Homo sapiens: one gene and its partners. The protein of the gene in region 1 purifies or fractionates together with the protein of each later gene. This does not show direct contact. Each region holds a gene or a part of one and is shown in the gene's direction. Other genes may lie near its edges. The genes, in order: AFM, POTEI and GBP1.

The links.
Region 2: the proteins of AFM (region 1) and POTEI purify together in Homo sapiens (affinity purification with mass spectrometry; 2 studies listed by BioGRID and IntAct, with this or other methods). This does not show direct contact.
Region 3: the proteins of AFM (region 1) and GBP1 purify together in Homo sapiens (affinity purification with mass spectrometry; 2 studies listed by BioGRID and IntAct, with this or other methods). This does not show direct contact.

The regions. Positions count from the first base shown.
Region 1 is NC_000004.12:73,495,702-73,506,388, forward strand, and holds the end of AFM (afamin precursor), read left to right. Parts: intron 1-1,950; coding exon 1,951-2,048; intron 2,049-3,412; coding exon 3,413-3,545; intron 3,546-4,302; coding exon 4,303-4,526; intron 4,527-6,085; coding exon 6,086-6,218; intron 6,219-7,348; coding exon 7,349-7,369; 3' UTR 7,370-7,409; intron 7,410-8,174; 3' UTR 8,175-8,300; downstream 8,301-10,687. UniProt on the Homo sapiens protein: Functions as a carrier for hydrophobic molecules in body fluids. Essential for the solubility and activity of lipidated Wnt family members, including WNT1, WNT2B, WNT3, WNT3A, WNT5A, WNT7A, WNT7B, WNT8, WNT9A, WNT9B, WNT10A and WNT10B. Binds vitamin E.
Region 2 is NC_000002.12:130,457,238-130,467,541, reverse strand, and holds the end of POTEI (POTE ankyrin domain family member I), read left to right. Parts: intron 1-1,769; coding exon 1,770-1,890; intron 1,891-3,397; coding exon 3,398-4,726; 3' UTR 4,727-8,087; downstream 8,088-10,304.
Region 3 is NC_000001.11:89,059,706-89,072,024, reverse strand, and holds the start of GBP1 (guanylate-binding protein 1), read left to right. Parts: upstream 1-6,816; 5' UTR 6,817-6,865; intron 6,866-8,771; 5' UTR 8,772-8,790; coding exon 8,791-8,980; intron 8,981-11,700; coding exon 11,701-11,828; intron 11,829-12,319.

The DNA.
Region 1 (10,687 bases):
TGTATTTTATTAAGCCGTATTGGATATTACATGATTTCAAAAGCAATGATTGCTGTAGATGACTAGGAAAATATTCTGTATTTTATTAAGCCATATTGGATTCTTTATGGTTTCAAAAGTAATGATTGATTGTTGTTGATTATTAGGAAAGCAACAAAGGTTACAAAGAACCCTTTTCTGATTCTCCCACTGGGAAATAGCTATAATTAACATTTGTGTTCAACTCTTCAGTACATATACGTATATATACGTGTATTTTAAAAATAAGATTGGCATAATTCCTAGAAAATGTTTGGACCTGTTTTTTTATTTGGTATCATAGAAAACTTTTTTGTTGTTGTTGTTATAAATTGTGCTTCCTTGGTTTCCTGCTGTTGCCACAAAGGGAGCGGCTTAAACCAACAAAAATTTATTCTCTCACAAGAGGCCAGAAGCCTGAAATGAGTCTCATGGGGCTAACATCAGGTGTCAGAAGGGCTGTGTTCCCTCTAGGGAAGCTAGTCCTTGACTCTTCTTGTGTCTAGTATAGAAAACTTTTTACGTCATTAAACAGACTTGAAAATAAACTTCTTTTTAAATGATGGTATCCCATCATAATTATTTAATTTATTTAACTGATTTCCTACTGTGTGTTTGACATTTTGGATGTTTGCTTAGGGTGTTTTTCACTTTGTAAGTGACCCTGAGATGAACGTCTCCTTCCATTTATCTTTATTAATATTTATGGCTTTTTTCTTAGGATGGATTATCAGAAGGAAAATTATTGGATCAAAATATATGAACTTTAAAAAACATTTAACACAAATTGTTGAATTACTGTCAAGAAAGTTGTTTCTGGTGTCTGGCCCCACAACAGTGCTTGGAAATGCTCATTTCAATGTCACTTTTACCAACATTGCACATGGAAATTAACTTTGCTAGATTTATATGTAAATAACAGTGTTTGTGTTTTTAAAACACCTTTATTTGATTTTTAAATTGTTAAATTTTTTCCATATGATTTTAGCTATTTACACATTTTCTGTGAAAAATCTGTTCATGTGTACTACCCATTTTCCTGTTGAAATTAGTGTTTTTCATATAAATTCATATGTATTTCTGAATACATATTAGAGAAATTAATAATTTGACATTTTTTGATTTATTTCTCCTTCCTTTGATATGTGCTACTTTTGCTTTAGCAAAACATTTTTTTTCACTTGCCACAAACACCAGTTTATACCCACTCAAATTTGAGCAATGGAATAAGACTTGGATCCCTGCTCTGTAACTGTCCCTAATGAGGTAGTCTGTTTCTGATCCTTAAATTAATCATAGCGCTAGAAAATTCTCTCTTTTCATGGAGATACAATTTGCTCCACAATAGCTATCCACTGGTGTTTAGTTCTCTGTCTGGTGGCCACTCAGAAGATGTCCAATTTTATGCCACATGAGAGATAGTCCATCAAATATTTGAAGAAAACTGTTGGAGGTTTTAAGTTCCAAATCTAAACAATGAAAAAATCAAAAAGAGCAACATGATTTAAAATGTTCTGTAACAACACTTACTAGCTGGGGTATTCTGGGTAAGTCACTTAATTTCACAAGGCCAGTTGCCTTTACTTAAAAATGGAGATAACAACTGCTCTTGCCACTTCAAAGTGACAACTGAATGTTATTATTTTCAACATACAATTTAAATTCTGTTTTGTAATTTGGAAGGCTCTGAAATATGTACAAGGTGATAATAAAAAAATTTGGACTTTTAAATTTAGCAAGAAATATATTTTTATATACATAATTAAAAAATTAAGTTCTTGCACGTGCTTGTAAAAAGTGCCCTGAATTTAGTGTAATAATGAGAATTTGAAAATACCATAGAAATAAGAAATGCTATTCTACACATTGATGTAAAGCTTATGGTTAAATTTTAGATAAAATGTTTGTAACCATGATTATTCTTATTTTCAGGAAGACAAATTCAATGAGACAACTGAGAAAAGCCTCAAGATGGTACAACAAGAATGTAAACATTTCCAGAATTTGGGGAAGGATGGTTTGAAATACCAGTATGTTGTTTGCACAAGTGGGCTAACACTTGCCACTAGAATTGAATACATAATCCCTCGAAGCGTAAAAAAGTTAGCTGTCAAGTTTTTCAGTTATGGCCGATTCATAAACTCTTGGAAGAATTTTTTTTTAAAGTCAAGAATGCCTATTGAACTGTCACATTAATCTTTTATCAGAAATGAAGCTAAAAATAAAAGAAATACAGGATTCTGGAGACATTGATTCTCTAATGCTTTGGTTTCTGTTTGACATTGGCTTTCTCACTGCCAATCTAGAATCCCTGCATCCTCACCCATTTCAAAGTGGGACACTGCATATTTCAGGTCATTACAGTTTCTTTGGGGAAGAGATAGTTTGCCTTGCCTTGCCTTACGGCTATCTTACCTGAGTTTATAGAAATAACTCAGGATGTGTTTAACACTTTAATATTTAGCTTTTTAGTGCTCTTGTGAGCATTTGTGAATAATATGCAGTTTGGGTTTTTTTCAATTATTATGTCAATGTATTTTATTATCATTATTATTATTGTTATTATTATCATTACTACATATTTTTGAGACAGGGTCTCTCTGTCACCCAGGCTGGAGTGCAGTGGTGTGATCTCAGCTCACTGCAATCTCTGCCTCACAGGCTCCAGTGATCCTCCCACGTCAGCCTCTCAAGTAGCTAGGGCTACAGACGTGAGCCACCATCCCTGGCTGATGTTTGTATTTTTTGGTAGAGATGGCGTTTTGCCATGTTGCACAGGCTGGTCTTGAACTTCTGAGCTCAAGCAATCCAACCCTTCGGACTTTGCTGGGATTACAGGTGTGAGCCACTGCACCTGGCCTCATGCTAATGTATTATTTATTGAAACTAAACATCTTTAAATCAAAATAAAACACAGTTTAAAAATATCTGACTTTCCTATTTCTGCAATTTGGCTGTTAGCTGACAATTCAAACTTAGTTCATTAAAAATCTTAGTTTTCTTCATCTCAGATTATCCTTTTACAACATATATTGATTAAATTCTTTCTTTAAAATATTTTCTAATGATGTAAATTATTTTAAGCAAGATTTTAGATACTAGCCAATGTATTTGCTGTCAAGGAGCTCCTATACTTAAAGATAACACGGGGAGGCAAATCTAAGAGCTTCTGAGACAACCGTGAAATTAGAAAGGAAGCTAAAATAGATATAGGAAGCAGGGTGCAGGAAAACAGGAAGTAAAGACATATTTCTCTACTTTATGAGAGAGCTAAGGTTCATGTTGCACCTATATTGGTTGTCGCTAGCCTTGAAGGGTCTGGGCTTCAGCAGTAATTCAAGGGAAAATGGGTATCTGCTTTCATTCAGAACCAAACAGACAAATGTTCTTTCAGTTACCTCATCAGGCTCACGAAGATAGCTCCCCAACTCTCCACTGAAGAACTGGTGTCTCTTGGCGAGAAAATGGTGACAGCTTTCACTACTTGCTGTACGCTAAGTGAAGAGTTTGCCTGTGTTGATAATTTGGTGAGCATGGCCTGTGTACCAGACTACTCTTTTTTTTTTTTTTTAAAAAAAAGAATATTTGCACTCATTGATTTACCGTGATTATCCATATTCCTTTCTTCACTGTTTTAATATTGTTAAGCAAAAATTGTCAAGTTTTCCTTTTGGCTCACTTTGTGAAAACCCTAAGAAGTAAAACAGAATGTCTTCAATATTTTTGGAGAGTACTTCAAATTATCTTTCTTATTTCTTCATTGTATTAGAAGGGATTTGTTAGGACAAATGATTTAGGAATCATAATATTGTTTCAAAATGATACAGGAAACTTTATAATTTTAAGTAAGGTTACAGATTCTTCCTCTTGGCCCCATTGCTTCATCCAGCAATCAGGCATTGAATACATCTCTTTAGGGCTGGGGTGGAGAGTACCTTGAGGCAGATGCCAGGAGGGGAAGAAACCCCTGTACCACAGTGTTTGATCGCCCCTTTCAGTTGGCTTTTTGCAGCTGTCTGTTTGCAATTGAAAGTTTGTTTATATGCCACCAAGAAATTAATTTGTAGGCATCTAAATTCTTATGGCTTGGATTTTGGTCATAATGCCATTTAGGACCCCAGCTTCTAGTTTTACTTGTATATAGGGATATGTCATGAGTGCATGTGTTTTATGAGTGAGGTTAACAGTGATCTTAGAAAGATCTAAGTATTCATCTAACCATATTTTTAGAAATTCCATTCAAGTTTTAAGATCGTATCTCAGTTGCAACTCTTGTTGGTACAGGCAGATTTAGTTTTTGGAGAGTTATGTGGAGTAAATGAAAATCGAACTATCAACCCTGCTGTGGACCACTGCTGTAAAACAAACTTTGCCTTCAGAAGGCCCTGCTTTGAGAGTTTGAAAGCTGATAAAACATATGTGCCTCCACCTTTCTCTCAAGATTTATTTACCTTTCACGCAGACATGTGTCAATCTCAGAATGAGGAGCTTCAGAGGAAGACAGACAGGTACAAATAATCTCTTCCATTCTTCTTTTTCTTTGGTTTGAAGACACACCATGTATTAGTGAGAAGGTTTATCTAGTGGATATGTCTTTTTGATATCACAATCCTGTTCCTTCCACCAAATTGTCCAGTCTCTTCTATATGGAAAAATACAAGTGCATATTTTTTTTTTGCCATTGTTTATATCTAGCTTGTCTTTTCATTTGAAAGAGACTTGGAATGTCCAAGTCTAACATTACCTTTAGAAAGTTTACAGCAGCCAGCAAAAAGGCTCATAGGCAGGCTGATAATGAATTTCATTTCCTTGAGGGAATGCCCGGAGAATATCATTTAGTGTTTACAAAGGAGAGGCCTAAAGGGCCAGGAAGTTTACTTTCATTTTCTCAATAAATGCTTTAAAATGCCAGGAAATTAGACCTAGTTTTTTGGATTTAGACAGAGTCTGCCTAATGTGTAGTGGAGACAACATTCAGCTACCAAATATGAGGAAATGGAGGTTGTTTTGGACATGAATTTTCTGGAAAGATCAGACGTAGTCATGTATACCATAATACTTGGCATAATAAAGGCCTAATATATGTTTTCATTTTTAAATAGAATAATACTCTTATTATGTGCAATATTCATAGATTCACAGTGCAATACACTCTTGTATTTTCCAGTCCATCCTATTCTAGTCTGGTCTATTTTATTCTTTTTAACTATCCTGTTTTCATTTTAAAAATGAAAGCGAGAAAATGCAAATTTTTGTTAATTCTTAGATCGAAGGATGGGCATACGGGACTTATTACATTTTCCTCTTTGGTGCATTAAAATTTTATTACTTAAAATAATTACTCTAAAAATGTACTCTAAAATGTACTTTTAAGACATCAATGGGTTGCCCCCTGAAGTTTGGAATTCTATAAGTTACTAGAATACTGGAATTCTAGAATTTACTAGAAAATAAGGAAATCATTATTGTCTATGGCTGTTGTCACACTTAATTGTGATAGCTTATTTTTTTAATTGCTCCTTTGACATCATTTTTAATTGACATATAATAGTTGTACATATTTTGGGGGTACATGTGATATTTTGATAACTGCATAAATGTGTAATGATCAAGTCAGGGTAATTGGAATGTCCATCATCTAAAACATTTATCTTTTCTTTGTACTGGGAACATTACAATTCTCCTCTTCTAGCTATTTTGAAATATACAATAAATTACTGTTAACTTTAATTTTCCTACTATACTACTGAATACTAGAACTTATTACTGCTATCTAATTGTATTTTTGTACTCCTTGGCCAACTTCTCGTCATCCCTCTCTTCCTCCTTGTTAATACTTTTTGTATAATTTTGTGTGTGACAAAACCCTTCAAAGAATGTTACTGTGGAAACCATTCTCTAAATTTAATAGGAAAGTTTCAGAAGACCCATTCAAAGTGGTATATTTCAACTCTTTACCCACACCCAAGCTGAGACTCAAGACGTGATTCTGTAACAAGCATTTTGGAGTAGAGACGCTTCAGAAAGAAAGCGTTAATTAATTTTATTTGACATCTTTTGGCCACAGGTTTCTTGTCAACTTAGTGAAGCTGAAGCATGAACTCACAGATGAAGAGCTGCAGTCTTTGTTTACAAATTTCGCAAATGTAGTGGATAAGTGCTGCAAAGCAGAGAGTCCTGAAGTCTGCTTTAATGAAGAGGTAGTTTTATTTCTTTTCTACTGAAATTCAACTGGTTTTCCTGGTCAAATAAAATAAAACAGAACCCTGCAGGACACTGCTTCCTCTCTGCAGTGTCTACCAGGACTACATTTGAGAGCACAATTGCTACACAACTAATATGTAGACATCTCTGAAATACACTTTGAGCAGTGTCTCCTTAGTACAGAAAAAGCTGTCGGAAGACCTGGGTTGTAACCCCAGCAGTCTTGTAAGTCATGCAACTTAAACTGAATGGCAATTAACTATCTTTAAATGAGGATGGTAATAATTATCCCTGAATTACACCTTTGGTTCTTATTTTTTGGTTTTGAACCACTCATTATCTTAATAAGACAGAGTCAAAGCGACTTGCAAAGGAAATCATAAACAGCTCCAAATGGAGCAGAGCAGGAAGGGTATTAGAAAGTGAAGTCTTTCAGGAGTGGCTGTCTCACTTTCCCAGGCCTTGTGCTAACATCCTGCAGTTGAGAATAATGAGGGAGTGGAGGGTAAGGGTAGTCAGGGAGAAAAGGGAGAAATGTCCCTTGCTTGCCCTCGCTCCAGTGAAGGTAGTCTGTAGCCATTTGCTCTGGTTTGAACCTCAGCAACCTGTGAATGTTAGCCCCAATGGATGGCTCCATGGAAATGCCTGTTCACTGTTTTCCAACTTTATTTCTCACTGTTTCTTTTCTAGGAACACTCACTCCACTCCAAACTCACAATTCATGTAAACTCACAGGCAGACAAACTCACACACGTGATTCATTCTGGTTGTGAGCCATCTACTTTTCTGAGTGACACTTAGTTTGTGGAAATTTTTCTGGGGTACATATTACTAGTTTTTAAAAAATATACCTAATTTTAAGTAAAGGATATTAATCAATATCTAGCATTTATCTGAGTGAGTGTGTACATTAGGGCCATGTGAAGGAAAGGATGAATTTTTGGCAGTTGTAAAGAGCCTTTCGGTGTCTATTTTTTCACTAGAAGAAAGAATGTTTACTGTTTCCCTGTACAACGTGGGAATGATTTAATTTTCTTCAAAATTCAGGAAAACATGCTTATCTAAATTTAAACTAGTGTCTTAAATTTTTCTTCCTATGTGTTTTTATTTCCATCCCTCACCTCAGAGTCCAAAAATTGGCAACTGAAGCCAGCTGCTGGAGATATGTAAAGAAAAAAGCACCAAAGGTAATACCCTCTGCCTCATTCAAATGTCAAATGTATTTGTGGCTTATCTGATCTCCTTGCCTTTTCTCCCTCATGCTTCTTTGTCTATTTCTGGTTCATCCTACATGAACAAGAAATGCACATGTAGCTAACAGACCCCGATATTGTTCCTGTGTTTTTCTGGGTATCAGCCACTCCTTATGGGGTGGCAATGCTGCATTTGTGCTTGCCCTTCTCTTGCTGTTCAATCAGTTTTCTAGATAACCAAGAGGCGCTTAAGTCCTCTGCCTTCCTACTCATGTATTCAGCTGTCTGGACCACAAAGGAGGGATGATGGAACCTCTGAATGTTGACAGAAAGAAGAGGGGTAACTCCCTGGGGACTGAGGTGGGCAGACAGACCTCAGTGACCCTTTCCAATAATCTTTTAAGAATATTGCTTTACTGAGATATGATTCACATACAAACCAAGGGTATTGCTACAGCATTTACGTGAACAAAAAGCGATATGTTTGTGATTTCAAAAAGATATATAAAGATGCCCTCCCCTTTGTGGCTTATGTAAGACCTGAAACACAAACTTTAGCAACAAAATGTTGCGTAGATATAGGAGTTATATACAGTGTCAGTGAAGAGAGACCTGGACCTCAACAGAAGGTAGGTTGGGATTTACAAGGGACAAAACACGGTTACCACTAATAGTTTTTTCAAATACTCGACTTTCTATCACCCAACTTTCAACATTTCATGTTTTTTTGATGCATGAAATACTATCTTCTCTTTCCAGGGAAGGCTTCCTATCTGTGTGGTGATGAATCGCATTTCCTGAGAACAAAATAAAAGGATTTTTCTGTAACTGTCACCTGAAATAATACATTGCAGCAAGCAATAAACACAACATTTTGTAAAGTTATTTTTCAGACCGATGTCATAAATCAACCTAATCACAAAATCAAGCAATCATGATTCATTCATTCCATCAGCATCTTTTGCTCACATGGCTGCACCATTCCCTATCCATGAAAGATGGAAGTCTGAATAGCAGCTGGGTAGGCACAGTGCTCTAAGATGTCCTTGAAACTACCAGAAAGAAAACTGAGAATTTTGGGCATGAAACTTTACTGCTACAACTACTGCTACTACTAGTAGATGACATTGAATGTTTTCAATGTACCAAACATTGTTCTAGCTAGTTTTCATGCATTATTTCATTTAATCTAATAACTCTATGGGTAGGTATTATTTTCATTTACATTTTACAAACAGGAAATCTAAGGCTTGGGGAGATAAACTAATGTGTTCAGTGTGATATCACTAGTAATTGGCAGAACCAGGGTTTGAATTTAGGTTCTCTAATTCTGGAACTATATATAAATGTATATAACATATATATTATATATTATGTAATAATAATGTTATATATTATATATAATACTGTATAATATATTACATTACTGTAACATATTATAAAATATATAATATATAATATAATATATACTTCCAGAATTTTATATATATTATATATTTTATAATTTCAACTTTTATTTTAGATATAGGGGGTTCATGTACAGGTTTGTTACATGTGTATATTGCATGGTGCTGTGGTTTGGTGTATGGATCTCATCACCCAAGTAGCGAGCATAGTACCCAGTAGTTAGTTTTTCAACCCACACCCCTCTCCCTCCCACCCCTCTGTAGTAGTCCCCAGTATCTATCGTTCCTGTCTTTATGTCCATGTACTCAATGTTTAGCTCCCACGGTATTTGGTTTGAAGTTTGAAGTTGGGTAATGTGATGCCTCCAGCTTTGTGGAACAATATTGTTAACCATTGCATACACTACCTCTTAGGTATGGCCATGTTGCATGCCTTACAAAATCTGTTATTCAGAGAGGTGGAATGATTGTACAAGGCAACAATGACAGTGGTGGTTCTCGCCCTCCATTCCAAGCCAGAATTGCTGTTGTGTTAGTGATATAAATGCTTGATATTGATATCAAAGGAGAAGTAACTCAGGAAATGAAGACTGGTTATGGACTCATGGCCTGGCTTTCCTGGTGGTTCTCTAAACTTTGAAGATTTTTGTATGCCAATGTTTACATTTGAAGATGTTGGCCATTTAATAGATAATACATGAGGCTATTCATAGAGTTATTTTGGTAGAGTGTTTAGAGCATAGTCTTTGGGATTCTCATTGATTTATTCAACAAGTATTTATTAGAATTCTATTGTGTGTCAGACATTGTGGATACAAATATGAGACAGAATTGGTTCCTGTTTCTTGCTAAGCAGGGGAGAGGGACAGTAAACATGCAATCACGTTTCAATGTCATACGTGCAGGGTCCAGGCACTCACTCTAAGCTGAAGGTGCAGAGTGAGAAAGGGATGGCAGCGGGTGCTTTATATCCCTACTGCCATTAATTTACTGTACAGCCCCAGATAAGTTCCTTATACTCTATGACATCAATTTCTTTGTGTAGGATGGGCTAATATCAAGTCACAAAGGCTTTAGAGAAAAGAATTAAATTACTATATAAAGTACTTAATACATTGGCCAGCAGATAACAGGTGTGTAAGTCATAAAGTTATTTTGTCCTCTAACCACTTTCTCCAAGCACTCTCATTTACCAATGAGGATAAGAAGGAAGTATTGCTTTACTTAAACAATAGATAGTAGATTTAGAAAACGGAAGTGAAACAAAGCATAATTAGTGAACTTAATTTTATACTGGATTCTGCTATGTATTCAATACTGTGCTAAGAGAAGCAGATACAAAATCAGGGACCCAGGCACTTGCCGCCATCATAAAGTTTCTATCATGGCAATGGAAACTGCCATACAACTCTTTCTCTACTGCCATGCCAGAACACACATTGATCAAAGCAGGAAAGGAGGGAGAAGAATGGCTTCTGCAAAAGACACAGTTGCCTGAAAAGGAGGAGATTTGGAGTGGGCATGAATTAGTCTTACTCTGTATTACTTGGACAGAACTCATACCAATGAATAGAACATATCTGGTTTGATGCAGAAAAAAATTTTCTAACACTAGAGATGCTTATACATGTGATAAGCCTCCTGCTGCAATACTCAATGCCAAGACTGCATGTGTGTGAGCAGCTACCACCTGGGTTTTTGGTGGCATCCAGTCATGGTCTTTCTAAGGCCTCTTTGAACTCTATTTCTATGACCTGGGCAAGAATTAAGTTTTCTATGAAAATAGTATTTATTAAACATCATCACTGCATCTTGTACTTGCATACCTTCCATATTTTATCTTAAAGGCTAGCCTGAAGAGCTTAT
Region 2 (10,304 bases), on another chromosome or scaffold:
TCTTAGGTTTAGGCCTTTCATCCATCTTGAATTAATTTTTGTATATGGTGAGAGATAGAGATCCAGTTTCATTCTTCCACATGTGGCTATCTTTTTTTCCCAGCACCATTTATTGAATAACCTGTACTTTCTCCAGTGTATGTTTTTGTATCCTTGCTCAGAGATCACTTGGTTGTAGTGGCTTTATTTCTGAGTTGTCTGTTCTGTTCCATTGATCTATGTATCTGTTTTTATACGAGTACCACGCTGCTTCTGTTACTGTGGTCTTAGAGTATCATTTGAAGTCAGGTAATGTGATGCCAACATATTTGTTCCTTTTGCTTGGTATGTCTGTTGCTGTTCAGGCTCTTTTGTGGTTCTACATGAATGTCAGCATTTTAAAATAATTCTGTGAAGAATGACATTGGTACTTTGGTAGGTATTGTATAGAATGTGTAGACTGCTTTGGGCACTATGGTCATTTTCACTATATCAGTTCTTTCAGTCCATGAACATAGGATGTATTTTCATTTGTTTGTGTCATCTGTTATTTTCTTTGGTGGTGTTTTCCAGTTATCTTTATATAGATCACTCACTTTTTTCATTAAGTATATTCCTAGGTGCTTCACACTTTTTTGCAGCCACTGTAAAAGGGATTGGATTGTTGATATGAACTCTCAGCTTGGTTGTAGTTGGTGTATAGTGGTGCTACTGATTGGTATTCATTTATTTTGTAACCTCTGAGACTTTACTGAATTCATGTATCAAATCTAGGAGTGTTTTGTAGGAGTCTTTAGGGTTTTCTAGGTATAGGATAATATCATTGGTGAAGAGATAGTTTGACTTCCTCTTTTCCAATTTGGATGCCCTTTATTTCTCTTGCCCAATTGCTCTGCCTAGGACTTCCCAGTTTTATTTTTAATATGCATGAAATAAAAGTAAAATGGAAAGTGCTTAACGATGAGTTTATTTCACATCTCTCTCTCATACACAGATAAAATTATTTCAAAGTCCTATGTTAAAAACATATTATACCCTGTCTTGTTCTAAAAGGAATTTCTAAGTTGTTTATAAAATACATAGGAATCAAGAATATAAGTAGAAAGTGTTTCCAAACAATAAACATAAAGAGTATGGGTTACAGGACACAGACCATTAGCAATCCCTGGCCTGTTAGGACCTGGGCCACACAGCAGGAGGTTCGAGGCAGGTGAGCAAGTGAAGCTCCATCTGTTTACAGCCACTCTCTGTCGCTCGCATTACCGCCCGAGCTCCTCCTCCTGTCAGATCAGCGGTGGCATTAGATTGTCCTGAGTGTGACCTGAACCCTGTTGTAAGTTGCTCATGCAGGGGGATATAGGTTGTTCACTCCTTATGAGAATCGAATGCCTTTCTGATCTGTCACCATCTTCCGTCACCCCCAAATGGGACCATCTAGTTGCAGGAAAACAAGCTCAGGGCTCCCTCTGATTCTACATTTTGGTGAGATATAATTATTTCATTATATATTAATAATAATAGAAATAAAGTGCACAATGAATGTAATATACTTGAATCATCCTGGAACCATCCCCCACCTCAGGTTCCTGGAAAAATTATCTTCCACAAAACCAGTCCCTGGTGCCAGCATGGTTGGGGACACCTGGTTAACAGATGTGAGACCCCTTTGCCTTGTCTTGGAATAATGTGCAGATATGCATTGTGTGAATGACATCTGATGGCGCCATCTTGCCCTGTACATCATTTTAGGGACAGCTCCAGTATTTCATGAAAATTAAAATTTCTTCTAGTGACGAACAAAATGATACTCAGAAGCAATTTTGTGAAGAACAGAACACTGGAATATTACACGATGAGATTCTGATTCATGAAGAAAAGCAGATAGAAGTGGTTGAAAAAATGAATTCTGAGGTATTTTCTTTAGTTATTTTCAAATGTTTTTATATGTGTGTATATTTTAAAGAACTGTATTTTGGAAATATAAAGGATTTTTAAGTCATATATATGTGTGTATATATTCTATATATCCTTTGTCATATATCTATATACGTACGTATAGGATAAAGCCATGTTCTTAATTCACCTTCATTTGCCTGCAACAGTTGAGTAGTGACTTGCACAATGGCCTCAATCCAAAGGAGAAGTATTTGATGTTTTTCATAAGAATTGACGATCTTTCCACATCAGAAATAAGTTTTGCTACTGAAAACAGATTTTCTCATTTTTGGACATTAGTTTTTTAAAAAATGTTAATAGAGAAGTCAATTGATTATTTTTACTGATAAGAAAGTAGGAAATGTATAGCTGGGTCAGAGGCCACATTGTGGATACCATTATCCTTACTTTTGCAGAGAGGAACAGTTTGCTCCAAGTAGTTTCTCATTTCAGTGTAAAGAGGTTTGAAAACAATGACATGCCATGATACACATTTAGTAATAATTTATTGATAAGTATTTTGTTTCTGGAGAAATAGTTCAGTATATTTCCCCTATTTCACCATTACTACTGTTTCAAACATTATAAAGAGGAAATAAAAGTTACCGCAATGGCAAATAATCTCATGATTTCTAAGAAAATCTCTATAAGTTGTATCTTATTTACCATTCATATTTTGAAACAAAAGGTTTCTTTTGTATTTATATATTTACACCACAGAAGTAAGTGTGGTTTTGTGGAGGATCACTAGAAGTAGCATCAGCAGACCTGGGGAAAATCCTGCATCTGTGTATATTTTTTGACCTCTCCTTTTAAGAATCGCGATCTTAAATGAGTTCAGTGTTATATGTAGAAGTGGAATGCCTAGATACAGATGTGTACAGTGTAGAAGGGTACAGTGCTTAGATTTGACAGTTATAAATAAATGTAATTCTTATAACTGAGTATAGAAATATTAGAAATGTAGAATATCGGTAAAATGTTCTTCAGTAAAAGAACTTTAAGAACTTTGAGAAATTGCTTCTGTCCAAATATATGCATAGCTAAGGCTCTTAGGATGGTGTGGTTGATAGGTTAGATATCAGAGTGTAAACCTAATCTTAAAAATGTAGTCAAATTGTTAATCTTATATTTTATGCCTCTGGGTTTTTTGTAACTCAGAAAAAGGCTTTTTTAATTCTGGGATTCTTAAAAATCCTCTAGTGATTTATTTTTCATCGTCTTTAAATAAATATTTAAACTTTTAGGAATTTAGGAGCAGATTCCTAAAAGTTTAAATATTTATTTAAAGGCGATGAAAAATAAATCACTGGAGGAATTTACACTCTTATTAGGTTTGAAGTTTTGTCCAATTTTTTTCCAGTTAAATATCCACTATGGGGATTCTTTCATTATACAAATACATGTTATTTTTGAATTTCAGAAGAAATAATGATATGTCAATCTATTGAGTGCTAACTAAAAGTTCTCTTTGTTTACTTAGCTTTCTCTTAGTTGTAAGAAAGAAAAAGACTTCTTGCATGAAAATAGTACGTTGCGGGAAGAAATTGCCATGCTAAGACTGGAGCTAGACACAATGAAACATCAGAGCCAGCTAAGAAAAAAGAAATATTTGGAGGATATTGAAAGTGTGAAAAAAAAGAATGATAATCTTTTAAAGGCTCTACAATTGAATGAGCTCACCATGGATGATGATACCGCCGTGCTCGTCATTGACAACGGCTCTGGCATGTGCAAGGCCGGCTTTGCGGGCGACGATGCCCCCCGGGCTGTCTTCCCTTCCATCGTGGGGCGCCCCAGGCAGCAGGGCATGATGGGGGGCATGCATCAGAAAGAGTCCTATGTGGGCAAGGAGGCCCAGAGCAAGAGAGGCATCCTGACCCTGAAGTACCCCATGGAACACGGCATCATCACCAACTGGGATGACATGGAGAAGATCTGGCACCACACCTTCTACAACGAGCTGCGTGTGGCCCCTGAGGAGCACCCCATCCTGCTGACCGAGGCCCCCCTGAACCCCAAGGCCAACCGCGAGAAGATGACCCAGATCATGTTTGAGACCTTCAACACCCCAGCCATGTACGTGGCCATCCAGGCCATGCTGTCCCTGTACACCTCTGGCCGTACTACTGGCATCGTGATGGACTCTGGTGACGGGGTCACCCACACTGTGCCCATCTATGATGGGAATGCCCTCCCCCATGCCACCCTGCGCCTAGACCTGGCTGGGCGGGAACTGACTGACTACCTCATGAAGATCCTCACCGAGCGTGGCTATAGGTTCACCACCATGGCCGAGCGGGAAATCGTGCGTGACATCAAAGAGAAGCTGTGCTATGTTGCCCTGGACTTCGAGCAGGAGATGGCCATGGCGGCCTCCAGCTCCTCCCTAGAGAAGAGCTACGAGCTGCCCGATGGCCAGGTCATCACCATCGGCAACGAGTGGTTCCGCTGCCCCGAGGCGCTCTTCCAGCCTTGCTTCCTGGGCATGGAATCCTGTGGCATCCATGAAACTACCTTCAACTCCATCATGAAGTCTGATGTGGACATCCGCAAAGACCTGTACACCAACACAGTGCTGTCTGGCGGCACCACCATGTACCCTGGCATGGCCCACAGAATGCAGAAGGAGATCGCTGCCCTGGCGCCTAGCATGTTGAAGATCAGGATCATTGCTCCTCCCAAGCGCAAGTACTCCGTGTGGGTCGGTGGCTCCATCCTGGCCTCGCTGTCCACCTTCCAGCAGATGTGGATCAGCAAGCAGGAGTATGATGAGTCAGGCCCCTCCATTGTCCACCGCAAATGCTTCTAGGTGGACTCTGACTTAGTTGCGTTACACCCTTTCTTGACAAAACCAAACTTCTCAGAAAACAACATGAGATTGGCATGGCTTTATTTGTTTTCTTGTTTCATTTTTTGTTTTGTTTTTTATTGGCTTGACTCAGGATTTAAAAACCGGAATGGTGAAGGTGACAGCAGTCGGTTGGAGGAAGCTTCCTCCAAAGTTCTACAATGTGGCCAAGGACTTTGATTGTACATTGTTCTTCTTTTCAATAGTCATTCCAAATATTGTGAGACGCATTGTTTCAGGAAGCCCCTTGCCCTGCTAAAAGCCACCCCACTTCTCTCTAAGGAGAATGGCCCAGTCCTCTCCCTAGTTCACACAGGGGAGGTGATAGCATTGCTTTTGTGCAGATTACATAATGCAAAATTTTTTGAATCTTCGCCTTAATACTTTTTAATTTTGTTTTATTTTGAATGATCAGCCTTCGTGGCCCCCCTCTTTTGTACCCCAACTTGGGGTGTATGAAGGCTTTTGGTCTCCCTGAGAGTGGCTGGAGGCAGCCAGGGCTTACCTGTACTCTGACTTGAGGAGAGTTGGATAAAAGTGCACACCTTAAAAAAAATTGAGGAAGCACAGTATTTCAGTACAGTGGACAGCTTAGCATGTTGACAACTGAGAATAAAATGCTCAGTTCTGAACTGGACAATGTAAGACACAACGAGGAAACACCGGAAATGGAAATTCAATTACGTCATTGTAGACTGGCTGCTGCTCTACATGATTGTGACCAAAGTCAGATAGCTGAAAGAGACTTCTTTCCAGAGAACAAGACATGAACAGGTTTATTTACAGAAGACAATGAATTCTCATTTATCTCACCTAAAAGAGAACAGATTCTTTCTCAACAAGTCTAACGTAGACAGTAAAATCAACAGGCTAAAAATTAAGCTCCATGAAACAAGATAAAACTCTGAGAGAAAAGACGGGGCAGGCCGCCATCTTTCCCGTTCAGGCAACTTAGTCATTCCAGCCTGCGGGCTTTGGAGAGTACAAACCGACGAGGGACAGAAGAGATCCCACAGCACAGCATAGCTGCTTTACCAAATCATGGCCAGACTGCTTCTGTAAGCAGGCCCCTGATCCTGTTCCATCTCACTGGACAGGACCTCCCAACTGGGGCCTCCAGCTACCCCCACCAGCATTCCTTGGCCAATGGAAATGTGAAATGTTCCTGGGACAGAGCTCCCGGAGAGGGGCAGGCCCCCACCTTTGCTCTTTCGGTGACTAGCCATTCTGGCCTGCGGGCTTTGGAGAGCCCAAGCTGACAAGGGGTGGAAGAGGTACCTCAGCACAGCACAGCCACGCTACCAAAACGTGGCCAGACTCTTGTTTACGTCAGTCCCTGACCACATTTCTAGTCAGTGGGTGAAGTCTTTCAACCAGGGTCTCTGGCTACCTTGACTGCTGTTCTCTGGCCGACAGAGGTCTCAGGCCTCCCTGAGTCAGAGCTCCCAGGGGGAGGACCAGATTGTCATCTTTGCTGTTGGGGCGACCCAGGCATTTCAGCCTTAGGGCTTCAGAGTGTCTGAGGCGGACCAGGGGCTGAAGTGAACCCCCAGCACAGCACAGCTGCTCTATAAAAACGTGGCCAGACTTTTCTTTTTGAAGCAAGTCCCTGTTCTTGTTCGTCCTGACTAGGTAAGACTTCTCAACTTGCCTCCAGCCACATCTTATAGGTGTGTTCAGATTGGCAACAGGTTCGTACCTCAGTGGTACAGAGCTTCCAGAGGAAGGGGCAGACTATCATCTTCCCTGGAAAATACAAGGCAATTAGGGACTGGAGGGGACCCCCAGCATACCACAGCAGCCCTACAGAAAAGTGGCCAGGCTCTCTACTTGATGGGCAGATCCTCCTGGCCTGGGTCTCTAGCCAGCCCACCACTGGAGCTATCAAGCCAGTAGCAACTCTGCAGTTCCTGGGACAGAGCTTCCAGGAGCAAATGAAATCCTTTCTGCCACTGCCTCTGCAGTGGAACTGCCCTTGCTGCCCTCAGAAGATGCAAGGGAGCAAAGACCCTAAGTGCCCTATCAACACCTCCAATAAGCTGCAGTTGACCCAAAGAACAAGCCAGTCCATCTCCCACGGGTACCACACACCCTCCACTACTCATCACCAGACAGGGAACCCTGGCTTGGGCCCACAGCACAGACCCTCCATCCTGGGCTGATTACACTAAGTGATTGCTAACTCACATGTCTCTGGGATGGAGCACCCAGGAAACAAGCAAAGTGGTGGAGCAGCAAGTCAGGTGATGTGGAGCCCAGAGGTCAGGGATGGCTGTCTCTCTAGGGTCCACTTGCCCTTGTGAGACACTTTATCCCAGCACTTTAGGAATACTGAGGTCATACCAGCCACATCTTATATGCAAGATTGCCCAGCAGAGATCAGGTCCGAGAGTTCCCTTTTTAAAAAAAGGAGACTTGCTTAATAAAAGAAGTCTAGCCACGTTTGTGTAGAGCGGCTGTGCTGTGCTGGGGGTTCACTTTTGAGAGAGTTCTCCTCTGAGACCTGATCTCTGGAGGCTGGGCAATCTTGCACTTGAGATGGGGCTGGTCTGATCTCAGCACTCCTTAGTCTGCTCGCCTCTCCCATGGCCCCAGCCTGGCCACACCTGCTTACGGGGCACTCTTAGATGCCCACACCATAGCTTCCGTGCTAGTGGACTGTACCATATCAGTGGAGAGCTGCAGCAAGGTGGCCCCTAGAGCCACGCACCAGCCTGCACATTGCCTCTCCATACGGCAGCCCTTTATTTGGAAACTTCCTAAATCACTTTGCTGTGTGTGTTTACACGGGTGGGTTTTGCTTTACTTGCCCTGAGAGCACACAGGAGTGCAGCACACACCCCAACCCACATCAACTGCCATTAAAGAAAAGAAATTTCAGCCCAGAATTTCATGTCCAGCAAAATTAAGCATCATAAGTGAAGGAGAAATAAGATCCTTTTCAGACAAGCAAGTGCTGAGGGAATTTGGTATCACCAGATCTACCTTACGAGAGCTCCTGAAGGAAGCACTAAATATGGAAAGAAAAGATCATCACCTGCTACTACAAAAACACACTGAAGTACACAGTCCAATGATGCTAAAAAGCAAGCACATATGTAAGTCTGCAAAATAACCAGCTGACAGCATGACGACAGGATAAAATCCACACATACCATTACTAACCTTAAATGTAAATGGGCTAAATGCTCCCATTGAAAGACACGGGGCAAGCTGGGTAAAGAACCAAGACCCACTGGAGTATGCCGTCTTCAAGCAACCCATCTCACGTGCAGTGCCATACATAGGCTCAAAATAAAGGAATGGAGAAAAATATTTCAAGCAAATGGAAAACAGAAAAAAGGTGTTGCACTCCCAGTTTCTGACAAAACAGACTCTACCAATAAAGATAAAAAAAGAGAAGGACATTACAAAGGTGGTCCTGACCTTTGATAAATCTCATTATTGCTTGATACCAACCTGGGCTATTTGTATTGCCCAAACCAATAGGATAATTTGCTGAGGTTGTGGAGCTTCTCCCCTTCACAGAGTCCCTGATCTCCGAAAATTTGGTTGAGATGTAAGGTTGATTTTGCTGTACAACTCCTTTTTTGAAGTTTTACTCATTTCCAACAAGGAAGGCAAGTTTTCCTGCTTCCATTGACAAAGGAGAGCAGGCACCTCCTTTCCTGAGTTTCAGCTTGCTTCTGACAGGGAAGGTGAGTGTAAGTTTTTCCAGCTTCTAAGATGGCAGAGAATGATCACCCAGTCTGAGCCTTATTTCCAGGTAAGTAGCTGAATTAGAGTTTTGTCTTAAAATTTTTCCTTAATGACTAAAATTTAAGATTACCCACCAGCTGCTTTTAATTCCTCCTTACCATTAGAACACTCAGTTAATCATATGAATTGTGCATTTGTTTGTTTTGCTTAACTCTTTTTGTTTATGTTTGGGGTTTTATTGTTGTTTCACTTTTCTCCCATCTCTTCCTGACTTGGTCAAATCCAAAGGAATGTTCCAAATTGTGGGGAGCAAGGCATCTGAATTGGCTAAAACTCCTGGGGCTGCAAAACAAAAACAAAAACAAAACAAAACAAAAAAACAACAAAAAAAAAAACCACAAAAAACAAAAAAAAATCCAGTTGGAAATTTTTTAAAACTTTTTTTTAATTTTTAAATTTTATTATTATACTTTAAGTTTTAGGGTACATGTGCACAATGTGCAGGTTTGTTACATATGTATACATGTGCCATGTTGGTGTGCTGCACCCATTAACTCGTCATTTAACATGAGGTATATCTCCTAATGCTATCCCTCCCTGCTCCCCCACCCCACAACAGTTCTCGGTGTGTTATGTTACCCTTCTGTGTCCACGTGTTCTCATTGTTCAGTTCCCACCTACGAGTGAGAACATGAGGTGTTTGGTTTTCTGTTCTTGTGTTTGTTTGCTGAGAATGATGATTTCCAGCTTCATCCATGTCCCTGCAAAGGACATGAACTCATCCTTTTTTATGGGTGCATAGCATTCCATAGTGTATATATGCCACATTATCCAGTCTATCATTGATGGGCGTTTGGGTTGCTTCCAAGTGTTTGCTGTTGTGAACTGTGCCGCAGTAAACATACGTGTGCATGTGTCTTTATATTAGAATGATTTATTATTTTTTCAGTATATACCCAGTAATGGGATTGCTGGGTTAAATGTATTTCTAGTTGTAGATCCTTGAGGAATTGTCACACTGTCTTCCACAATGGATGAACTAATTTATACTACCACCAAGAGTGTAAAAGCGTTCCTATTTCTCCACGTCCTCTCCAACATCTGTTGTTTCCTCATCTTTTAATGTTGGCCATTCTAAGTGGTGTGAGATTGTATCTCATTGTGGTTTTGATTTCCGTTTCTCTAATGACCAGTGATGATGTGGTTTGCTTCACATGTTCTTTAGCTGCATAAATGTCTTATTTGGGAAGTGTCTGTTCATATGTTTTGCCCATTTTTTGATGGGGTTGTTTTTTTTCTTGTAAATTTGTTTAAGTTCTTTGTAGATTCTGCATATTAGCCGTTTGCCAGATGGATAGATTGCAAAAATTTTCTCCCATTCTGTGGGTTGCCTGTTCACTCTGATGATAGTTTCTTTTGCTCTGCAGACACTCTTTAGCTTAATTAGGTTCCATTTGTCAATTTTGGCTTTTGTTGCCATTGCTTTTGGTGTTGTAGTGATGAAGTCTCTGCCCATGCCTATGTCCTGAATGGTATTGCCTAACACAAGGACATTTCTGTGCCTGAGTGCCATACCACCCAAAGTGATTTATAGATTCAGTGCTATCCCCATCAAGCTACCATTGACTTTCTTCACAAAATTAGAAAAACTACTTTAAATTTCATATGGAACCAAAAAAGAGTCTACATAGCCAAGACAATCCTAAGCAAAAAGAACAAAGCTGGAGGCATCACAGTACCTGACTTCAAACTATTCTACAAGGCCACAGTAACGGAAACAGCATGGTACTGGTACCAAACCAGATATATAGACCAATGGAATAGAACAGAGGCCACAGAA
Region 3 (12,319 bases), on another chromosome or scaffold:
TCTGTCTCGCTGGGGTTCCAGGTGCCACTAGGGTACAAAAAAAAAAATCCTACAGCTAGCTCGGTGTCTCCCCAAACAGCTGCCCAGTTTTGTGCTTGAAACCCAGGGTCCTGGTGGTGTAGGCACAGGAGGGAATATCCTGGTCTGTGGATTGCAAAAACCGTGGGAAAAGCATAGTATCTGGGCTGAATAGCACAGTCCTTCAGGGCTCCCCTTGGCTGAGAGAGGGAGGACCCTGGCTCCTTGCACTTCCCAGGTAAGTCAACGCCCCCACCCTGCTTCTCCATGGGCTGTACCCACTGCCTAATCAGTCCCAATGAGATGAACAGGGTACCTCAGTTGGAAATGCAGAAATCATCTTCTGTGTTGGTCTCACTGGGAGCTACAGACCAGAGCTGTTCCTATTCGGTCATTCTGCCAGATCTAAGACATGTTGAGCATTTTTTATATACTTGTTAGCCATTTGTATGTCTTCTTTTGAGAAACGTCTATTCATATATTTTGCCCATTTTTTAAATAAGATTGTTTGTTTGTTTTTGAGTTGAGACTCTTGTATATTCTGAATATTAGTCCTTTGTCAGTTGAATAGCTTGCAAATACATTATCCCATTACATAAGATGACTCTCCATTCTGTTGGTTTTTTCCTTTGCTGCACAAAAACCTTTTAGTTTAACAGTCTCATTTGTCTATTTTTGCTTTTGTTGAGTGTGCTATTGAAGTTTTACCCATCAAATTGTTGCCTGGACTGATGTCCACAAGTGTTTTCCCTATGTTTTTCTGTGATAGTTTTAAAGCTGGGGGTCTTACATTTAAATATTTAATCCATTTTGAATTGATTTTTCATACAGCACATTAATATCCACATTTCCCAGCATCAATTATGAACATACATTCCCCAATGTATATTGCTGGCCTTTGTGTCAAAAATAAGGTGACTTTAAATATGTAAATTTATTTCTGAATTCTCTATTCTGTTCCATTGGTCTACGTGTCTGTTTTTTACTGACAGGTCATTTTTTATAAAATTAAAACTCAACTCATTTCACATAAGTGACATGAAAGGAAATTCTTCACGGATAAAAGTTTGAAATCTTCCAATGTGCAATCTTGGGCTACATAAAATGTGCAATCTTGGGTGACATGAAAGGAAATTCTTCATGGATAAAAGTTTGAAATCTTCCAATGTGCAATCTTGGGCTACATATTTCAGTGTTCAGTGCTCCATTCTTCCACTCCTCTCCAGGCCTTTGCTTTTATGCTTTGAGTGCAAGTCAATCTTACCCACTAGAGTAAGTCCAGTTTAGGGCAGTGCCTGTGTCTAATTCATCTTCATACACTTCTCAGCACCTAGTACAGTGCTGTGCATGCAGTGTATTTGCTCTCTATACACACACATGCATATGGTTGTTTTTCTAGCTTGCAGGTCTTGCATCCATTTGATATGAGACTCAGTGACCCCAGCTGAATCACTGAATCCCTCTTGCTATGCACTCTACGGGCAGCTGCATAGAGCTCTTTGTGTGAAAATAAGCTTACTATCAAAACATTCCACACCTGAAATTCAGTCTGTTCATTGGATGCTGATATTGAGACTGCTAGGCATATATACAATAATTATTGCATCATGTAATAATACTAAACTGTGAATTAATTTGATCTGTGACCATCTACTAGAAGAATTCCATAGCCTGCAAACCAAATGAACCGAAAGTGAGGAAATGATGCTTCCTCATCCCCACCATCTAAATGAAAAATTCCCTAAATATTTTTTCCCAGCTGTCTGACATAAAAACAAAAAGCACAAAAACTGTCCCCAACACATTGCACTAAACAGAAAAGAGTGGTTTTCTTAATATCTAGTCTATTTCCCAGAAATGAAGAGCTTGTCCCTGCTTTCACTTTCAATTTGGGGCAGTTTTGGTAGTTTGAGTCTTTCTACGAATTTGTCCATTATGTCTAATTTAATTTGTTGGCATACAGTTGTTGATAGCATTACCTTAAAATCTTTTTTATTTTTGTAAGGTCAGAAGTAATGTCCCCTTTTTCATTCTTGATTTTGGTAATTTGAGTCTCCTGTTCTTCTGCTGGGTTTTTTGTTTTGTTTTGGCCAGTCTAACAAAACAGGTTTTTTTTGCCAATTTTGTTGATCTCTTCTAAGAACAGCTTTTGATTTTATTGATTTTCTCTACTTTTGTCTTATATTCTCTATCTCATTAATTTCTACTCTTTATTTCCAAAATTCTTTATTATTTTCTTCTTTCTGCTAGCTTTGGGTTTAGTTTGCTCTTCATTCACCAGCGTCTTAAGGTAAAAGATTAGGTTATTGATTTGAGTTCTAATATTTTCTTACTAATTTCTCTAGAGTGTATCATATATGTAATTTATGAGAATGTATATCACATTTATGCTAAATCAATTCCAATGAGAAAATTTTTACTCTTATAAATCTAAAAATACTAGTTTTCTCACTTTTTTGATACTATTAAATACGTTAAATATATGTTCAAACAATATAATACATTGTTATAATTAATTCACATAATTTTATGTCTTTTAAAGAAGCTGAAGGGGAAGGTATAAATGTATAGAGCTTGTTATGTTAACTTACAGTTTCAGGTTCTCTTAATGTATTCCTGGGGGTTCAAGTTAACATCTGCTGTCATTTCTTTATTCCAATGCAGCTTCGCTCCTACTGTCCTCTCTTGTCCTGTTCTTAAGTATATCACGTTTCTATATGTTATGAGCCTGAAACACAATTATATACATATTGCTTTATACAACTGTCTTTTAAAAATTAGTTAAAAAGAGAAATAAGAAGAAATATGCATTTATACAGTCTTTTATAACTATATAATTATCTTACTGGTGCTCTTTGTTTGTCCATGTGGATGTGTATTGCCATCTGGAGTCATCTGCTTTCTGCCTGAAAACCTTCTTTTATTAATAGTATTTCTTGTAAAGTCAGTCATCTAGTAGTAAATTTTATTTATGTTTCCAGGCTTGAATCTCCCCCCGGCCCACACTCTTTTTCAAATAAAGTCAGTTTCTGTGGGAAAAGCTTTGGAGCTCTGATTTTATGGACTGCCTCTCTCTCTCTGGAAAATATCTCTGAGCCATGACCCCTTCGAATGGGCAGAGGTGGTAGCTTCTGCTCTTTGCCAGTTGCCCCTCCCAACACGGAAAAACCACCCTACAAGTGAACCAGAGTGAGGGTGACAGGCCAGGGTTTCTCATTCTGCCATTCCTGAGCTAAAGCTGAAATCTTCTTGCAAAAATTATAACTGAGAATATTATTATGTGAAAGAGATCTGACCTGACTCTATCTTACTTCTAACCTCCAAGCTGTCCTTGTTCATCCCTGAGCATAGGCCAAACTGACATTGGAAGGAATTTAGTCAGCCTTTTCCCAAAATAAAACCCCTTCTTCCCTGAGAACTAGACTAACTTTGCAAGACTAACAAATCAGCCATGAGATTAGAAACTGTGGTCTGAGAGTCATGCAGCTAGAGGCCACAAGATTCCAGACCTCTCCAATTGCCATCCAGGTCAATAAACTGGCTCATCTGGTCTTGTGGCCCCCAGCCAGGAACCAACTCATGCAAGAGGACAACTTTGATGCCCTGTGATTTCATCCCTAACCCAGCCAATCAGCACTCCCCACTCCCCAACCTCCTACCCACCAAATTATCCTCAGAAACCCCCATACCCACATTATCAGGGAGAATCTTTTGAGTAATAATAAAACTTGAGAATCCCATACAGCCAGCTCTGCGTGAATTAAACGCTTTCTCTACTGCAATTCCCCTGTCTTGATAAATCAGCTCTACCTAGGCAACAGGCAAGGAGAACCTGTTGGGCAGTTATGGAGCCTCTGCTCTATGAGTGGGACTGGGAAAGTTTGGGAGCCCTTGACTTCTGGTCACACTCACCAGAAATTTAGTCTTTACAACTCACTATTGGAGGGGATGAAAAATTCTGGTGGACTGGCACTCCTGATAGGATATGTCATCCCTGCTCAGAATGTGAGAGAAGAGGCAGCCCCACCTTCTTTCCATAGCCCCCAGTAGTGGACCTTTTGTCAACCCGAACTGAAAATGAGGATGAAGAGGCCCAAGGGTCAAGTGCCACAGATTCTTGTTATTCTTACCGGAGTTATAGGAGCTCTCCTTGAATAGATGTTTCATTGTGATGTATGCTTCCTGTGGGGAAAAGCAAGAGAGATCAGATTGTCACTGTGTCTGTGTAGAAAGAAGTAGACATGGGAGACTCCATTTTGTTATGTACTAAGAAAAATTCTTCTGCCTTGAGATTCTGTGACCTTACCCCCAACCCCGTGCTCTCTGAAACATGTGCTGTGTCAAACTCAGGGTTAAATGGATTAAGGGCGGTGCAAGATGTGCTTTGTTAAACAGATGCTTGAAGGCAGCACGCTCCTTAAGAGTCATCACCACTCCCTAATCTCAAGTACCCAGGGACACAAAAACTGTGGAAGGCCTCAGGGACCTCTGCCTAGGAAAGCCAGGTATTGTCCAAGGTTTCCCCCCATGTGATAGTCTGAAATATGGCCTTGTGGGAAGGGAAAGACCTGACCGTCCCCCAGCCCGACACCCGTAAAGGGTCTGTGCTGAGGAGGATTAGTATAAGAGGAAGGCATGCCTCTTGCAGTTGAGACAAGAGGAAGGCATCTGTCTCCTGCCCGTCCCTGGGCAATGGAATGTCTCGGTATAAAACCCGATTGTATGTTCCATCTACTGAGATAGGGAAAAACCACCTTAAGGCTGGAGGTGGGACATGCGGGCAGCAATACTGCTTTGTAAAGCATTGAGATGTTTATGTGTATGCGTATCTAAAAGCACAGCACTTAATCCTTTACCTTGTCTATGATGCAAAGACCTTTGTTCACGTGTTTGTCTGCTGACCCTCTCCCCACAATTGTCTTGTGACCCTGACACATCCCCCTCTCGGAGAAACACCCACGAATGATCAATAAATACTAAGGGAACTCAGAGGCTGGCGGGATCCTCCATATGCTGAACGCTGGTTCCCCGGCTCCCCTTATTTCTTTCTCTCTACTTTGTCTCTGTGTCTTTTTCTTTCCTAAGTCTCTCGTTCCACCTTACGAGAAACACCCACAGGTGTGGAGGGGCAACCCACCCCTACACTTCCAGGACAATCTGCAGAGATTTTAAATGGTTCAAATAATTTTGACAGATGTAAGAATGTTATGCTCTAAAAAGTAAAAGACTTTAAAGTAGTTTTAATAATAAAGGAGCTACAGTGTTAAGGAAGGATGATAGAAAGAGTTTAGATAAAATTATTTTACAAAGTATGAATGAGAAAAGACACTGTATCTGCAATTTATATACATCTAATATATAATTTTAATGTGTAAGTGAGAAATGCTTGGCCAGGCCTGGTGGCTCACACTTGTAATCCCAGCACTTTGGGAGGCCAAGGTGGGTGGATCATCTGAGGTCGGGAGTTCGAGACCAGCCTGACCACCATGGAGAAACCCCATCTCTACTAAAAATACAAAATTAGCCAGGATAGTGGTACATGCCTGTAGTCCCAGCTACTTGGGAGGCTGAGGCAGGAGAATTGATTGAACCCAGGAGGCGGAGGTTGCAGTGAGCCGAGATCGTGCCACTGCACTCCAGCCTGGGCAACAAGAGTGAAACTCCATCTCAAAAAAAAAAAAAAAAAAAAAGAAAAAGAAAAAGAAAAAAAAAGAAATGCTCACACAAGGTTGGGTCTGGTGGCTCATGCCTATAATCCCAGCAATTTGGGAGGCCGAGGCAGGGGGATCATTTGAAGGAAGGAGTTCAAGACCAACCTAAGCAACAAAGTGAAACCACATCACTATAAATATATTTTTAAATGAAATGTTCACTCAGGCTTTTTACTATTTTATTTGCTTTTGCTGTAAAATAGAGATAATGCCACTTATTCTGTATGCTAGAAGTCATTACTGAATTAGACATAAAACACAAACAGCTCTTAGAAAACAATCTATAAAAATAAAATCACACTATAATAAATTTAAAAATAAAAAACCTATAAATAAAATATTTCTACAATTTTTCACTTAGTAAATAAGCAGCATAGTGAAGTGGTTCAAGAAGAGGGTATGGGATCATGAGTGCTTGGGTTCAGATTAGTTACAGTGTTATGATTTTAGACAACTAATAAAGTCTTTCTGTGCTCAGTTTCTATAAAACCATGAGGAAATATTATGAGTTTTCAGTTGTGCGATTCATGTAAAGCCATCAGTACTGAGCCTAGAACATGAGTACAACACATGGAGCCCCCTCCTGGCTGTGTGCTGGGCATTAAGTGCCAGGGGTTAGGTGTTCATGAGTGTGTTAAACATGTCCTTTCCTTATGTACTGCACCTCTCAAAGAATAGGCAGCTCCATTGAGAGTGTGTCTATTATTTTAGGAAATTGTAGCTGAAAATTAACATGATGCCTCCTCATTCTAGGTTTCTCAAATTGACTCAATCCATGAGACATGTATCATTGTATTCAAAACCTAATGGGCATTTTGTTAGACAACAAATGGTCTCTAAGATTTCCAACAACAACAAAAAAAATTTGAAGCTTCTGGTTGAGAAATCTTTAAACCCTCCCACTGGCACACTCCACTAATTCCATTTATGGTAGTGGAGTCAGTGATTTGAACGAAGTACTTTCAGTTTCATATTACTCTAAATCCATTACAAATCTGCTTAGCTTCTAAATATTTCATCAATGAGGAAATCCCAGCCCTACAACTTCGGAACAGTGAAATATTAGTCCAGGGATCCAGTGAGAGACACAGAAGTGCTAGAAGCCAGTGCTCGTGAACTAAGGAGAAAAAGAACAGGTAAGAACTTTTACTACTTCTCATCAAGCAGCTTTCTCTCTAGCTCCAAAGGATCTCAGCTCAGTGATATGGAACCTATAAGGTTGTGGCAGGGATGGGAAGGAATTTATAAAGGTCAGTTCATTTTCTTAAACATCATCAGAACCAAATTAGGCTGCAGATGAGCCTGAAGTGGGACGCAGGTCAGATGAAATCCTGGTGTTATCAGGGACAGCATGGCCTTAAGTGCCACTACAGTGCTTGTGTTGAATTAGGCACCAGTAGACAGGGGCTAAACTGAGCATTTGAAATGTACTAGGATAGTCTTTCTCTTTGTTGACATTATCTATGTTGACTAGGGATATGATTACATTTCCATCGTCAGTGATGGACTGAATCCTGCTTCTATGCAGCTAAGAAATGGAAGAGTTACAAACGGGTTCTTTTCATGGAAGGAAAGAACAGCAAATGAGAAGCAGAGTAAGCAGCCCACTGACACGGTTAAAGACAAAGAAAAAACTGAAACTCAGCCTGAAAGATGAAGATTCATGAAAACAGTATACTTTTTATTACACTTGTGAACTTTGTTTCAGAATGGATTACTTTCTTTAGAAATAGTCCAGACTCACTAATTTCCTAGTGCCCACTGATCCCTGTCCCTTAGAAGTGAAATTCAACCCCACTGCTTCACTGAAGTGCTTCCAATTTTGTCTTCTTTTAGTAGAGAGCAGGGCCAAAAGTGTTTCCTCTTTAATTCTCCTGTAATGCATCTCTACAGAAAATATCTTTGCTTACTTTAACCTCTCCATGCACTCAGACTACTTTGATCCTGCCTTCTGCAAAGTCTTCCCCTGAATGCCTTGTCAAGACACTAGCCTCATTCATCACCTCTGGTCTGACAGCTCCTCTCTCTCTCTCTCTCTCTCTCTCTCTCTCTCTCACACACACACACACACACACACACACACACACACACACACATTCCCAGCCCCTTATCCTCCTCTCCACTCCTACTATTCCTCCTCTTTCTATTTCTCTTTCTCCTACCCTACCAAATGGAAAACAGAACAAAACAGAAATCCTAAAGCTGTATCGCTGGAAATATATTTTATTTGAACAACTTCCTAGGTAGCTCTCTTTATCTGCCTCTTGATCTTTTAATCCTTATTATCTGGAGGAAACATTCAGTATTTGCAATTTTGCATTCATACCCTCAGTGACTTAGAAGCTATCTTATCGTGACTCTAATGAAGCTTAAGTTTCAGGGCCCTTCTCTTGGACATGACCCTTAGGAGCCCTTGGAAGGTTCCCTAGCCATGTGTTTCACATGGTTGTATAGTTTTATAAAATTTGCAAAAGTATGTTACATTGTTACCACTTCCAGAATGGCAATGTGAGAAGCTTTGTCAATCCTCATTGCAGTGAAATAAGCATAATCATTTGAAGATGGAGGAAGGAACACATTTAAAAATCTTTGGAAATTTTTCTAAGGGTAAACATCAAACTATGAATACTGATTCACTGTGTTGGATGTTTATTCACTGTGAGAATTAATAAGTGAATCAATATTGAATTCCTTACATACAGCCAGGATGCAAATAAATCCTCTAAATCCTATTCTATCTTCCATTAATTGACTAGTGAAAATATCTAATAAGAATCCAAAAAGAAAGTTTTCCACAATAAACTAAATGAAATATTTGGGTCGTGAGAGTAGTTGAGTGTTGATAAGTCACTGTCATGCTAACATTTTTCATAATGAGCTACTTTGACAATACTTCCATAACTTTCTCAAATGATACAGATTTTGCCTCATCTCTTTTGCTGTCACACACAAAACTTTTGGCCATACTGGGGAATCTTATGATTCTCCCTTATAATTGCAAAACACTAGAAATTCTCATGTATTTCACCTCTTCTCTTGCAGACAAGGGAACAGCCTGGACATGGCATCAGAGATCCACATGACAGGCCCAATGTGCCTCATTGAGAACACTAATGGGCGACTGATGGCGAATCCAGAAGCTCTGAAGATCCTTTCTGCCATTACACAGCCTATGGTGGTGGTGGCAATTGTGGGCCTCTACCGCACAGGCAAATCCTACCTGATGAACAAGCTGGCTGGAAAGAAAAAGGGTGAGTGGCATGAGCAAAGCTCTGCCAAGTCCCTTCTGTCCATCTACACAGTCAGCCTCCATTATGAAGATGTGAGGAGAGAAAGAGATGAGGATGAATACTGAAAGCTAACTTTCCATTCACAGTCGGGCTCCTTATCTTCACGCTGTTCTAGGGGATAAGAATCAATTCATTAATTATTCCCATGATACCTTAGTTTCCATTTCAAAAGCACAAATTATGCCTCTCCTAAAAGGAGTAAGACAGTAATAAAAATAATTAATGTACATAATAATAACTATAATAAACTATACAATGTTTATTACAATTTTTATGCAATAACAGAGTTCACAGTGATCTTTAAGGTTGAAAAAATGTTTCAATCTGTAGTGGATATTATTTTTTGTTGTTGTAAAAAAAATAAAATTTAACCTCGTAACCATTTTTAAGTGTACAGCTCTGTAGCATTAATGAAATTCACATTGTTATACAGCTGTCACCTCCATCCATATCCAGAAATCTTTCATCTTGCCTAACAGAAACTGTATTAACTAAACAAAAGCTCCACATAAACCCATTGCCTGCCATCATTCTACATTCTATCTCTATGAATTTGACTACTACAGAAACCTTATATAAGTGGAATCATTCAATATTTGTCCTTTTATGACTGGCTTATTTCAATTCATATGTCTTCAAGGTTCATCAGTGTGTTAGCATGTGTCAAAACTCTTCCTTTTTAAGGCTTAGTAATTGTACGTGTATACTAATTTGTTTATCTCTTCATCTGTCAATGGACACTTGGATTTCTTCCACCTTTTGTCTATTATAAATAATGCTAATAGGAACATGGGTGTCTGAATATCTGTTCAAGTCCCTGCTTTCACTTCTTTTGGGAATATACCCAGAAGGGGAATTGCTGGCTCATGCAGTCATTGCATGTTAACTTTTTTTAAGAAATCACTATACCATTTTCCACAGTGACTGTACCGTTTTACATTCTCAACAGAAATGCACAAGGGTTCTAATTTCTCTACATCCTCACCAACATTTTTTATTTTCAGTGGTTTTTTTTTTTTATAGTGGCCATACGAATGGAAGTTAAGTAGTATCTCGTTGTGGTTTTGATTTTGATTTCCGTAATGACTAGTGATGTTGAGCATCTTTTCACGTGCTTATTGGCCACTTGTATATCTTCTTTGGGAGAATGTCTATTCAAGTCCATTGTTCATTTATTAATCTGGTTGTTTATTTCTGTTGCTTTGTAAATTTTTTTATATTTTCTAGATATCAATCCCTTATCATATACATGTTTAGAAACCATTTTCTTACATTCCGTGTGTTGCCTTTTTTAACTCTGTTGATAGTGTCCGTTAATACACAAAAGTTTTAAATTTTGCTGAAGTCCCACTAATCTATTTTTTCTTTTATTGTCTATAGTTTTGGTTTCTTATTCAAAAAATAATTTCCAAATCCAATATTATAAAACTTTTACCCTTTATTTTCTTCTACAACTTTTATAGTTTCAACTCTAATGTTTGGTTCTTTGATCCATTTTGAGTTCATATTTGTAAGTTATAAGGTAATAGCCCAACTTTTTAAGGAGATATATCATTTCCTCAACATCATTTGTTAAAGAGACTCTCCTTTCTTCATTAAATGATCTTGACACCCATACTGGAAATCATTTGACCATATATATCAGAGTTTATTCATGGGCTGTCTTTTCTATTCTATTGGTTTATATGTCAGTCTTTATACCAGTACCACACATGGTTTTGTAATACGTTTCACAACTCAGAAACTGTGAGACTCCAACTTTGCTCTTCCTTTTTATTTTTATAATTAGGGGATCTCTGGAAATTTCATATGAAATTTATGGTGGATTTTTCTATTTATACAAAGTAATTGGAATGTTGGTAGGGATTATATCAAACCTGTACATCACTTTGGGTAGTAGTGACATCTTAAGAATATTAAGTCTTCCAATCCATAAACACAGGATGTCTTTCTAATAACTTATGTCATCTATAATTTCTTTAAAGGGTGTTTGAAGTTTTCACTCTACAAGTCTTCCACCTGCTTGGTTAAGCTGATTCCTAAGTAGTTTATTCTTTTGATGCTGTTAAATTGGATTGTTTCCAAAATTTCCTTTTCTATTTTTTACACTAGCAACTGATTTCTCCATATTGACTTTGCATGCTGCAACTTTGATGAATTGTTTTAATAGTTCTAATAGTTTTTTGTGGGATAGTTAATGTTTTCTACAAATTAGATACTATCATCAGCAGACAGAGATAATTTTACTTTTTCATTACCAATTAGGATGCCTCCTTTATGCTTCTCTTGTCTAATTACTCTGGATAGGACTTGCAGTGTTCTGTGGAATGCAATTGACAAAAGTAGGCATCCTTTTCTTGTTCATGATGTTATAGGAAAAGCTATGACGTTTCATCATTAAATGTGAAGTTAGCTGTGGGTTTTTAATACATGGCATTTATTATGTTGAGGTGCTGTCTTTCTATTTCTACTTTGTTGATTATTTTTATCATGAAAGCCTCCTGAATGTTTCCATGCATTGGATATTCAAATTTCCTATTTCTTTGATTGTAAGTACGTAAGGTGAATACTGATTGTTGTTTCAGTTCTCTCTCTTAACCTTAAATATACTACTTTTTCCTTCAATTGCCAGAACTGCCTGTTACTAAATCCCCATCGCTGGTCTCCTCTCTCCCTTGCAGGCTTCTCTCTGGGCTCCACGGTGCAGTCTCACACTAAAGGAATCTGGATGTGGTGTGTGCCCCACCCCAAGAAGCCAGGCCACATCCTAGTTCTGCTGGACACCGAGGGTCTGGGAGATGTAGAGAAGGTGAGACTCAAGGATCCAGTTGTGGAGTAAGCCCCTCCTCTCTGAATATTTTATGCAGCGGTTAATTGTTTATTAACTATTAACTACAGGCTGTAATATGTGTGGGTTAACACAGATGCATAAAGGGAGCACAAATAATCCCAGTGTCATAAGTCTTATCCTGCACAGAACTTTAGTTAAGAATTTGGGTGCTAAAGCCATGTGACTTTGTATTTAAATTTAAATTCTGTCACTAATTCAGTAGCCTGAGAAAATTGACTTATTTTCGCCTCAGCATTCTAATCTTTAAAATGTATGGAAAAGACCTATGTTGGCCATATAGTATTATTTTGAATATTTAATAAGATAATACATTACAGGTGTATATTAATTATTCAATAAAATAGCAACTAATAGTACCAATCTTATATGTGAATTCTGTTATTGAAAAAAAGAAGAGAAAATTTTAAATTTACATTGTACTCAGGCCTTAAAATGCCCACCAACCTTGA